3 linked regions of the Homo sapiens genome follow. The protein of the gene in region 1 purifies or fractionates together with the protein of each later gene. This does not show direct contact. Each region holds a gene or a part of one and is shown in the gene's direction. Other genes may lie near its edges. The genes, in order: PPIP5K2, ZC3H15 and LUZP1.

What was found.
Region 2: the proteins of PPIP5K2 (region 1) and ZC3H15 fractionate together in Homo sapiens (co-fractionation; one large-scale study listed by BioGRID). This does not show direct contact.
Region 3: the proteins of PPIP5K2 (region 1) and LUZP1 purify together in Homo sapiens (affinity purification with mass spectrometry, with the first as the bait; one large-scale study listed by BioGRID). This does not show direct contact.

The regions. Positions count from the first base shown.
Region 1 is NC_000005.10:103,123,194-103,126,852, forward strand, and holds part of PPIP5K2 (inositol hexakisphosphate and diphosphoinositol-pentakisphosphate kinase 2), read left to right. Parts: intron 1-3,659. UniProt on the Homo sapiens protein: Bifunctional inositol kinase that acts in concert with the IP6K kinases IP6K1, IP6K2 and IP6K3 to synthesize the diphosphate group-containing inositol pyrophosphates diphosphoinositol pentakisphosphate, PP-InsP5, and bis-diphosphoinositol tetrakisphosphate, (PP)2-InsP4.
Region 2 is NC_000002.12:186,496,182-186,499,840, forward strand, and holds part of ZC3H15 (zinc finger CCCH domain-containing protein 15), read left to right. Parts: intron 1-3,659. UniProt on the Homo sapiens protein: Protects DRG1 from proteolytic degradation. Stimulates DRG1 GTPase activity likely by increasing the affinity for the potassium ions.
Region 3 is NC_000001.11:23,083,480-23,086,302, reverse strand, and holds the end of LUZP1 (leucine zipper protein 1), read left to right. Parts: 3' UTR 1-2,273; downstream 2,274-2,823.

The DNA.
Region 1 (3,659 bases):
TTGCTGTGGCATCTGTATTGCAATTGTCAAAACAATATATGAGATTCATAATCCCATTTTACAGATGATGACTAGAGAGGTTCAATAACTTGACTAAGGACACAGAGCTGAGCAACTTGCAGAAAAAGTTTTCAAACCCAGTTTTGAGTCTAGAGCAATTGTTCTCATAGTGTGATTCCAGGACGACGAGCAACATCAGCATCACCTTGGAACTTTTGGAAAGGCAAAATATTGGGCCCCACCCCCAGAGTTTTGAGATTAGTATTAACAAGCCCTACAGGTGATTCTGTTGCATGCTAATGTTTGAGAACTACTGCATTGAGTGTGGACATTTTTAGTAGCATAACACTCATTTCAGATTTAGAAATCAGGTTTAAGGGATATTTGTCTTTTGTACAGTTAGATTCCCAAACCTGGCTGCTCATCCATTTGTAAAAATACAGTTTTTCTAGTTAAGAATTACTGTTTAGGAATTCCTAATCTGTGATAAGCCCAGTAACTTGTGTTTTTACAAGTCTACCAGATAATTCTGATGTAACCAGTCCATTTTGGGACCACTGCTATAGAAGGAATTCTAAAAATAAAGTAAGGTTCAACACTGATATTTGAATAATGTATGTATCTTTATGCCCAGACAGTTAGCATATGTTGAAATTAATGACTGAACATTGATCAAAATGCTAAATAATATGGAAGTGCTATATGTATAAACTGTACTTCGTTCAAGTATCAGCGCTTTAAGTGAAATAATACAAACCATTTTGAATGTCCTGCATCTCTTATGATGCTCATAAAATCTCATCTTGGCCGGGCGCGGTGGCTCACACCTGTAATCCCAGCACTTTGGGAGGCCGAGGCGGGAGGATCACGAGGTCAGGAGATTGAAACCATCCTGGCTAACACTGTGAAACTCCGTCTCTACTAAAAATACAAAAAATTAGCTGAGTGTGGTGGTGGGTGCCTGTAGTCCCAGCTACTTGGGAGGCTGAGGCAGGAGAATGGTGTGAACCCGGGAGGAGGAGCTTGTAGTGAGCCGAGATCGTGCCACTGCACTCCAACCTGGGGACAGAGCGAGACTCCATCTCAAAAAAAAAAAAAAAATCTCCTCTTGTACTACGACATATATCCTACTTAGGTGACAGAAATGTATTTGAATTTATTTTATATTTTTAGTTTTCTGAGAATTTATATTTGCCATGCTGTCATAAGGACTGTGGAGTCCTCATTTTTGCTCTTTAGTATAATGGCCTTTGGTTTAAACAGACCTGGGTTTGACTTCCATTTGCAACCCTTATTGGCTCTGTGATGATGATCAAATTACCTGAACTTTCTGAACCTCAAGTCTTAATTTATAATGACAAAATGGACACATATCTACATACATAAAACATTTATAAAATGAAGAATATATTTCTAATTCCAGGATGGCTGTGAGATTGTTAAATCACAAAGTAGTAAGTAATTTCTTCCCAACTTTTTTCATATTAAGGCATACCTAGAAAATGGTAGTATTTGTACAGTATCCTGGGGAAACTGAAGAGAGTGCTACTGGAAGCAACTGGCCAGGGTATAACAGCTGCCTTAAAGGCTGAGGCAATTAATTTCTTGGCATACTTACAATTCATTTATGGTGAGACAACATGTTGGGAGGCTCTGAATTTACAAGTAAGGTACTTACTAGGTAACAGTGCCTAATAAATGTTCCTTCCCTTGAGATTTATGTTGTGGAGGGATATACATAACCCAAGCTGTTAAATAACAAGGTTATATGTGACCAAAGGTCAAAACGAATGATTCGGAGAAGGTCTTGTAAATTGTTAAGGCAAGTTTTGTAGAGGAGTATCTATTGGATACTTGAGATGTGCCAACCACCAGAAGACAAAAATTCTGCTTCATCGGTTTTATCTCCTTTTTATTATAGGAAATTTCCTATAGTACTTGTTTTCAAAAACTGGTTCTCAAACTTGGCTACACATTGGAATTACCTGGGAAGACTTAAAATTACCCGAACTCTACTCTCAATCATTTTGATTTAAGTGATGTGGAGTATAGCCTAGACGTTGGGATACAAGCACTCTTAGTATATTATCTTACATATAACATCATTAAAATGACCTATGAGCTATGTACAATTTACAGATGAGGAAATTGAGGCCATAAGAAGTTAACTCACTTGCTCAAGATCAGCTAATTGGAGTCAGTCAGGTTTTAAACCCAGGTATTTTAACCCCTGAATCCATGCTCTTAACCACTAGCCTGTTCAGTTTTTTTTTTTTTATATGACATCTCTAAGTATCTCTCATATACTAAAGTGGAATAACAGAAAAAAAAAGAAAGGCTTCCTTCACTTTATGTCCTTTAGAGGTCCAATTCCTCTGTCCATCTTTTATAAACTCTTCAAAATAACTGTCTGTATAACTTGTCTGTATTTCATCTCCTTCTATTTTCTTGTTTGTTTGAGACAGAGTCTCACTCTGTTGCCCAGGCTGGAGTGCAGTGGTGCAATCCCGGCTTACTGCAACCTCCACCTCCAGGGTTCAAGTGATTCTCCTGCCCCAGCCTCCTGAGTAGCTGGGATTACAGGCGCATGCCACCATGCCGGGCTAATTTTTATATTTTAGCAGAGACGGGGTTTCACCATGTTGGCCAGACTGGTCTTGAACTCCTGGCCTCAAGTGATCCGCCTGCCTCAGCTTCCCTAAATGCAGTGCAATCACATTTAACAAATTGAAAATTCTTACTATGGCTTCTCAGTCCTTTGTGTGCATCTTAGCTACTTATCTGACATGATTTTTTACCATTTTTCCTTTGCTTGCCTGCTCTGCTCCACCTTACTCTTTCATGAACATGGGAAATATGCCAAGCATACTTCTGCTTTAGAGGCTTTATACTTGATGTTTCTTACCTGGAATGTTCACACCATATAACCCCATGGTTGGTTTCTCATTTAAATTAAATTTATATTTAAATGTCACCTTATTAAAGAGGTCTTTCTAACATGTATTTATTTGTTGATTTACCTAGTCCCTCACCAAATGAATGAATGAGACATGTTTCAGACCTAAGGTCATAATCAAATGAGGGACATATATCTATATACTTCATACAGCATTACAGACTTAAACAGAACTTGAATAAGTTAACAAAAGGGGACAGACCAGTCATTAATTCATACCCTTGGGAAAAAAAAATCTATTGGATACATACTTTTTTTTCCCCGAAAGTTGATTTCTACTTACACACATATTTTGTAAAGTATTTCAAAAATGTGGGAGAATTATATTGAAAAGACTATGTATTAGTCAGGGTTCTCTAGAGGGACAGAACTAATAGGATAGATATAGCTACAAATGGGAGTTTATTAAGTAGTATTAAGTCACACGATCGATCACAAGGTCCCACAATAGGCCATGTGCAAGCTGAGGAGCATGGAAGCCAATCCGAGTCCCAAAGCTGAAGAACTGGGAGTCTGATGTTTAAGAGCAGGAAGCAACCAGCACAGGAGAAAGATGCAGGCTGGGAGGCTAAGCTAGTCTATCTAGCCTTTTCACGTTTTTTTTTTTTTTTTCTGTCTGCCTTATATTCTAGCTGCACTGGCAGCTGATAAGATGGTGCCCACCCAGATTAAGGGTGGGTCTGCCTTTCCCGGAACACTGACT
Region 2 (3,659 bases), on another chromosome or scaffold:
CATTTGTAATTATTTTATTTTTATAGTCTATGTCATATGAATTTATTTTATATATCTTAAAGTTCTCACTCTGTTGCCCAGGCAGGAATACAATGGTGTGATCTTGGCTCACTGCGGCCTCTGCCTCCTGGGTTCAAGCCATCCACCTGCCTCATCCTCCTAAGTAGCTGGGACTACAGGCGCATGACACCACACCTAGCTAATTTTTGTATTTTTTGTAGAGACGGGATTTCGCCGTGTCACCCAGGGTGGCCTCACAATCCGCCTGCCTTGGCCTCCCAAAGTGCTAGGATTACACACGTGAGCCACCATGCCCAGACTAAGTTTGTTTTCTTTTAAATGAATAGCTGCTTACACCAGCATCATTTATCCAACTGAAATACCACTATTATCCTACAGTCATAGTCATACATTGTTTAGTGATGTGGATACAATCTGAGAAATGTGTCGTTAGGCGATTTAGTCATTGTGCAAATATCATAGAGTGTACTTACACAAACCTAGATATTACAGCCTACTACACACCTAGGCTATATGGTATAGCCTATTGATCCAAGGCTTCTAACTTATACAGCATGTTACTGTACTGAATACTGTAGGCAGTTGTAACACATTAGTAATGATTTGTGTCTGAACATAGAAAAGATAGAGTAAAAATATGGTATTATAACCTTACAGGATTACTGTCATATGTGGTCCCTCATTGACCTAAATGTCATTAATTCTGTGCTTGACTGTACATTAAAGTCTCAAGGCAAGTCTTTTCCCCAAAATGGTATACCTTTTCTATTTTTCCTGGTTGTTCTTAGGCATTTATTCTTTCATACGAATTTTAAAATGAGTTTATCCATTGGCAACTCATTTGAAAAAAATGTAGCCCCTTTTTTTTTCAGGTTCTTTAGACCTCTCACTTGTAAAGATTTCATAGACATGGATCTTTATTTTTAAAGTACATTTTTCCACCATTTTTATCTCCTTTTCATTAACTTCTGGAAACACATTTTTGTAATGTAGGAGAGAAGAAAGAATTTCTCATGTGTTTACAGATTTTTTAAAAATCTGCTAATATGTATTTGTGAGATAAGTAAATTTCTCTTGCTCATGCTGTCTGCAAATCAGTGACCCAACACTTTCCTTTCACATCCATTTTCCCAGCTTGATTCTAGAATCTAAAACTATTGCTCTTCCAAACTGCTAACTTAATAGCCCGGTTTAATAAAAATTAATGTTTAGAGCTCACGCCTGTAATCCCAGCACTTTGGGAGGCCGGGGCGGGCAGATCAGCTGAGACCTTGCAGTGAGATAGACTTGGGTGTGAATCTTCCTATCTTTTTTGTTACATGATCCTTAAATAGCAACCCTGGTCTTTATCTGTACTGTGGAAGTGCAGTTATTCTTTGTTGGATTCTTCTGGTGGTTAAATAAGAAAATAATGTAAATTTTCTGGTGAATATAGATATCAATATGTAAGAAGAACTCACTTTCTTCACTTAGCCCCTTTTTCAATCCTGCTTTCTCTTCCCCAACTTTTTCTTCTAGTGGAAAGTGTTTTGAGTGGTGATATCAGAATTCATAAACCTGGGAAAGTTATGAAATGTGTGTGCTGGTAGTTAGCTTTGATAGTATATTTAATACTATATTTTTGATACTTGCGTGGATAACTGGACTTATCTGTGAACATGGGGTACCTACCCATCATATATAACATCGGAAATGAGCAGTAGTGCTGCTCTTAGAGCTGGACAGGGGGTATCCTGGTCTAGGCCCTGCGATACATGTGTCTTCTCCAGACTGCTGTCTCCCCTCAGGTAAGGAGTCACTGAAGCCAAGGGGATGTACCCACCCAGATTTTGCAACATCTCTTCCTACAACATTCTGACCCTGGTTTATCTGCCTACAAAGGCCTCTCCACCATGCCCATCTCTGTCCATTGTGCTACCAATATGTCTGAGGTAGCCAAGAGAACAGTGTACGCTAAGGGTTTGAACAGAGCCTGCATCCATACCCTTTCCTTCCTTCTTGCACCTTTACCTCCCCCTACACCCAAAATGGAATGAAACGGGGTGGGAAGAGGAGAAAAAAGAGCCCAGGGCTAACTCTTGTGTTGCTGCCATGCTTCAGTGTGGAACTCCATGGAGTCTGAGCATTTTAAATTTGAACCTGTCCTTCCAGGTCATAAGGTATATTTGTCGAGTAGGGTTACAGACCATATTTTATTCATCATGAACTTGATTTCTAATTTTAAATATTTAGATAAATGGCTTGTAGACCTCCATTGTATTCTTGCTCAAACATTGCCCCACAAATGTTTGAGATGGGCCTGATGAGCAAAGGATACTTCTATTAAAAATTAAGCGACTTAAATTTTTTCTTTCAAAACATTTTTTGTGTTTAAACACATCCACCATATAGAGTCATATTCAGGATTTGGGATGTCTTTGACCTAATTATAGCATTTGGCCATTCCTTTCCTAAAATTTCCTCTTTCTTGAACACATTTTGTCCTGGTTTTCTACCTGCTTCTTTGATGTTTCTAGGTCTTTTTATTGGACTTTTTAGGTTCTTTTGTCCCATTTTATGTTGATTTTCTTCAAGGAAGTGTCCTTTACTCTTGCCACTTTTTTATGCTCTCCTTAAGTACCATATACCCAAAGTTTTAATTGTTACCTGTAAGCTGCTATTTCTAAAGTCTTTATCTCAAAGCAGACCCTCTCTGATTTCAGTGGAATCAATATGCATGTCTATCTGCCTTCAAAAGAGCTCTACCCAGATGCTTTGTAAGCATCTTGCACTCTGTATGTCTAAAACTAAGCTCATCTTCACCTCTTACCCTGAAACCTGTTCCTCCTGTATTCCCTGTCTTGTTTAACGGCACTAACCATATACATGATAATCCTAGATTCCTCCCCCTTTATACTTCATGTTCAGTCAGTCCTATCAGCTCTGTCTCCTTTTCTCCATCCTTACCAGTAATGCTCATTTTAAGCTCTTGTGTTTTATTGTGTACAGCAGTTGCAGCAGCCTCTTGCCTTTATTCTTGGATTCCCAATCCATCCTCTACAAAACTTGCCCTCTTGATATTTTATAAAATGTGACCTGACCTTGTTATTGGGTTACTTTAAACAGTTGAGAGAACTCTGTTCAAGCTACTGATGCAATCTAAGCATCTTACTGATGTTTCTCATACTTTATTCCTCTAGTCCCTGTAACTTTGCATTGGCTGGCTCTTTCTGTATTTCTTTTCTTGCCCATCAAGAAAAACTCATCCATAAGGTTATTGGCTCAATTTAGTTTTCTCAGGTATATGGGCATTCTTTGTTCCCAGAGCACTATGTACTATGTTACAGTTGTTGACATGTCTGTCATCCTGCTAGATTCTGAGCTTCTTTAAATAAGCATCTTTGTCTTTTCATTGTATTCTCTGTCATCTAACATAGGACCTGACGTATAAATGTTTGGATGAATCCTCTAATCATATTAGGTATGTAAATCGTGTGCCTGGAACTATGTTATATGTCATGTTTTGTTTTGAATTGTTTTGTTTAATATCCTACATTGACCTAACCCAGTGTTTTTCCATGAGGGCACTATATAGGTTTTTGGGGTGGTATAATTCATTATCATGTGGGACTGTACATTTCAGGATGTTTGCTTGTCTC
Region 3 (2,823 bases), on another chromosome or scaffold:
TTTATTTTTAAGTGTCCTCAGCATTGCAGAAAATAACATTGTAATAGCAAGTAAAGGCTGGAGGCTGTTTCTCTGGGCTTCAAATGGCTGGCAAGGCTGGCTCTCAAATCCCAAAGTTGGGAGGCATGTTTCTGAAAAGCAACTGAGGTGTGACTGTTTGGACCCAGGCCTCATCATCAGGGGTCCTGGAGGAAGCCTCCAAGTAGAGGGGAGACCTGGTAGTTGAATAGTTGTTTAATCAAGCCAAATAGTCCCACTGCCCCCGGTCAACAAACCCACTTTTATGACAGTTTTCTTCCGCAGCTTGGCTCTTAAATTTTACTGGCAGGTGTATGGTTGTTGGAGGGTTCCTAGTGAGTTGGGGGACCTGGCAATAGAGCTGCTTGGTTGGAGGAAGTGAAGCTGGCTTAGTACCAGCAGCTGATCTCTTCCACGTGCTGCTGCTTTTTTTGCCACTCTGATACTAAACCAGAGAAAGCTGCAGGTGGATAAAGAAGCTGTGGCTGTTTTTTGCTTTTGGGTGGCAATGAGAAAGAGTCACAGTGTGGGTTAAAGGGATCTGCAGTGGGGCCAAGGATGCCACCCCACCCTCAGCTGTAGGCAAGCTTGCACATAAATAACCCCCGTCAGTGGAGTGTTCGGGATGCAGGGGGCACTATAGTGTTCTTGGACTTGTCGTCCTGGGGCAGTTTTAGTTCTTTATATTTAGTGGGTCAGTGCCAAGTGCTACCACTTCCCAATAAAGGAATGGGGACCCAGAGGCTGGGTCCCTGGCTACCTTGTTATGAGGTTTTGTTATTTCTCTGACAAGATTGCTTTGGAAAGAGCTGCTTTTAGGGATTATTTTTTGAATACCCCGAGTGGGGAGCAGGGTTCTCCTCAAAGCCTCACAACCATAGGATCATAGGAAAGGGGCCCTATTTTCCTGCTGCTTCCCAGCTCAGAACATATACTGAATGGAATGTATTTTTAAGAGAATAAAGTCTATTTTTTTGTATTTTAAAGATTGAGAGGGCTAAGAAAGTAGCCCTCAAATAAACTGTTATTGCATTATAGGCCCCTTTGTTGGGGGCAGCCTGTTGGTCCACACCTACTTGCTCAGGCAGGTGCTCTGGTCTCTCTCACCCCTGCCCCTTAGAGTCTAGGTGCAGCAGCTCCAAGCATGGGACCAAGGAGGCCAGAACCTGTCGCTGGAAACCAGGGCAAAGCAGTGGCTCAGGGCTCCTTGGGTGCATGTGTATCATTGGAGCTGCCTGTCTGCATGTATCCTCTGGCGCGAATGCTCTCTGTTGGCTCTGCAGTACAATATGTAACCAATAAAGCTCCCTCGTTTCCGTATACTCTGTGCGAGTCTGTGATGCCAGTTTTGTCAATGTCATCCCTGTGTATCATCTGTCTTCTATGCGTTGGCGCAGCTCTAGTATATTTATTTATTTCATTGTGTAATACTTAAAATTGGGTATTTTACCTAACCAATTACTGATACTGCAAGGACTGGAAACATTAACTGCCCTGATCCTGGTGTGCAGATTCTTTCCATTACTGCCACGAATTCTAAGACTAGGGGGGGAAAAGCCTTCTCCGTTTTCATCTTCCAGTCAGATCACCAATATATATAATGATGTCCCTTAACTCACAGTAAGAAAGAATAAAACCACATTTAAGGGACATTACTTGGATTTGCAGTAACAGTGTTTATCATCTATCTGTCAGTCAGTCAGGAGCCCCTGGGAAGGAACCAGCATGTAACATGTTTTTATCATCTTATATGGCAAAAGGGACTTTGCAGATAAGGATGCTGGGATGAGGCAGAACATCCTAGATGATCCAGGTGGGCCTTAAATGTAATCACAGGTAGTATCCTTTTAAGAGAGAGACAAAAGATTTGACTACAGGAGAAGGCAATGTGATGATGGAAGCAGAAACTGGAGTTATGTGCTCTGAGGATGGAGGAAGGAGCCACGAGCCTTCCCACACCTAGAAGCTGAAAAGAGCAAGGAAATGAACTGATCCTCCCTGCTCTGAGAGCCTCTGTAATGAATGCAGCCCTGTGTACCCATTTTAGACTTTAAGCTTCCAGAACTTTCGAATAGATTTCTGTTTTTTTAAGAGCCACTAAGTTTGTGGCAATCTGTTAAACCAGCTGTTACCTAAGCCCTTGATCCTATGTAGTGCGCTTCCCAAAATGTACACCACCACCTTTAGTAGAATTGGGAAGTTTTAGCACATACCCATGGAGGGAATCAGGAATAAAGGCAGACTGGTCTCCCAAAGGCTCAGACTTTGTTTCAGCTCTTTTGTGTTCTATCTTGAAAGTGCATCCAAAGTTTCCTAATAACCATGTTCTTGGCACACCACCACACTCCACCCCCACCCAAGTGAGGAAGCCTAGTCCGACTGACCAGGAAGTCCACTGCTTCTACAGGACCGGCCCCCCTACCTTATCTTCTGACCTGATCAAACCATTTTTCTCTTTTATATGAACATCTTCTTCCTTATTTAAACATGGAGAAAACATGTATTACTATTGCCATAGGATAAACTTGGCATTTCCAAAGGAGTAATGCCCCCATCTTGTATGTAACTCCAACTCAAAGGAACAAAAGAGAGGGCCAATTTTATATGAAGTTTTATTCTCAAAATATAAAAAAAAAACAAAAACCCCACACACCAAGGGACTAAGATGATGTTATTTCACAGCACTTGCTTGCCTCAGTCTTTACGAAGAACACAATTCCAAACTAATGGACAAGTTCCTCCCTGTGCTCTAGGTCATTCAAAGGAGGCAAGCTCCTTTGTCAAATCAGGAGCTCCATCAGCTGA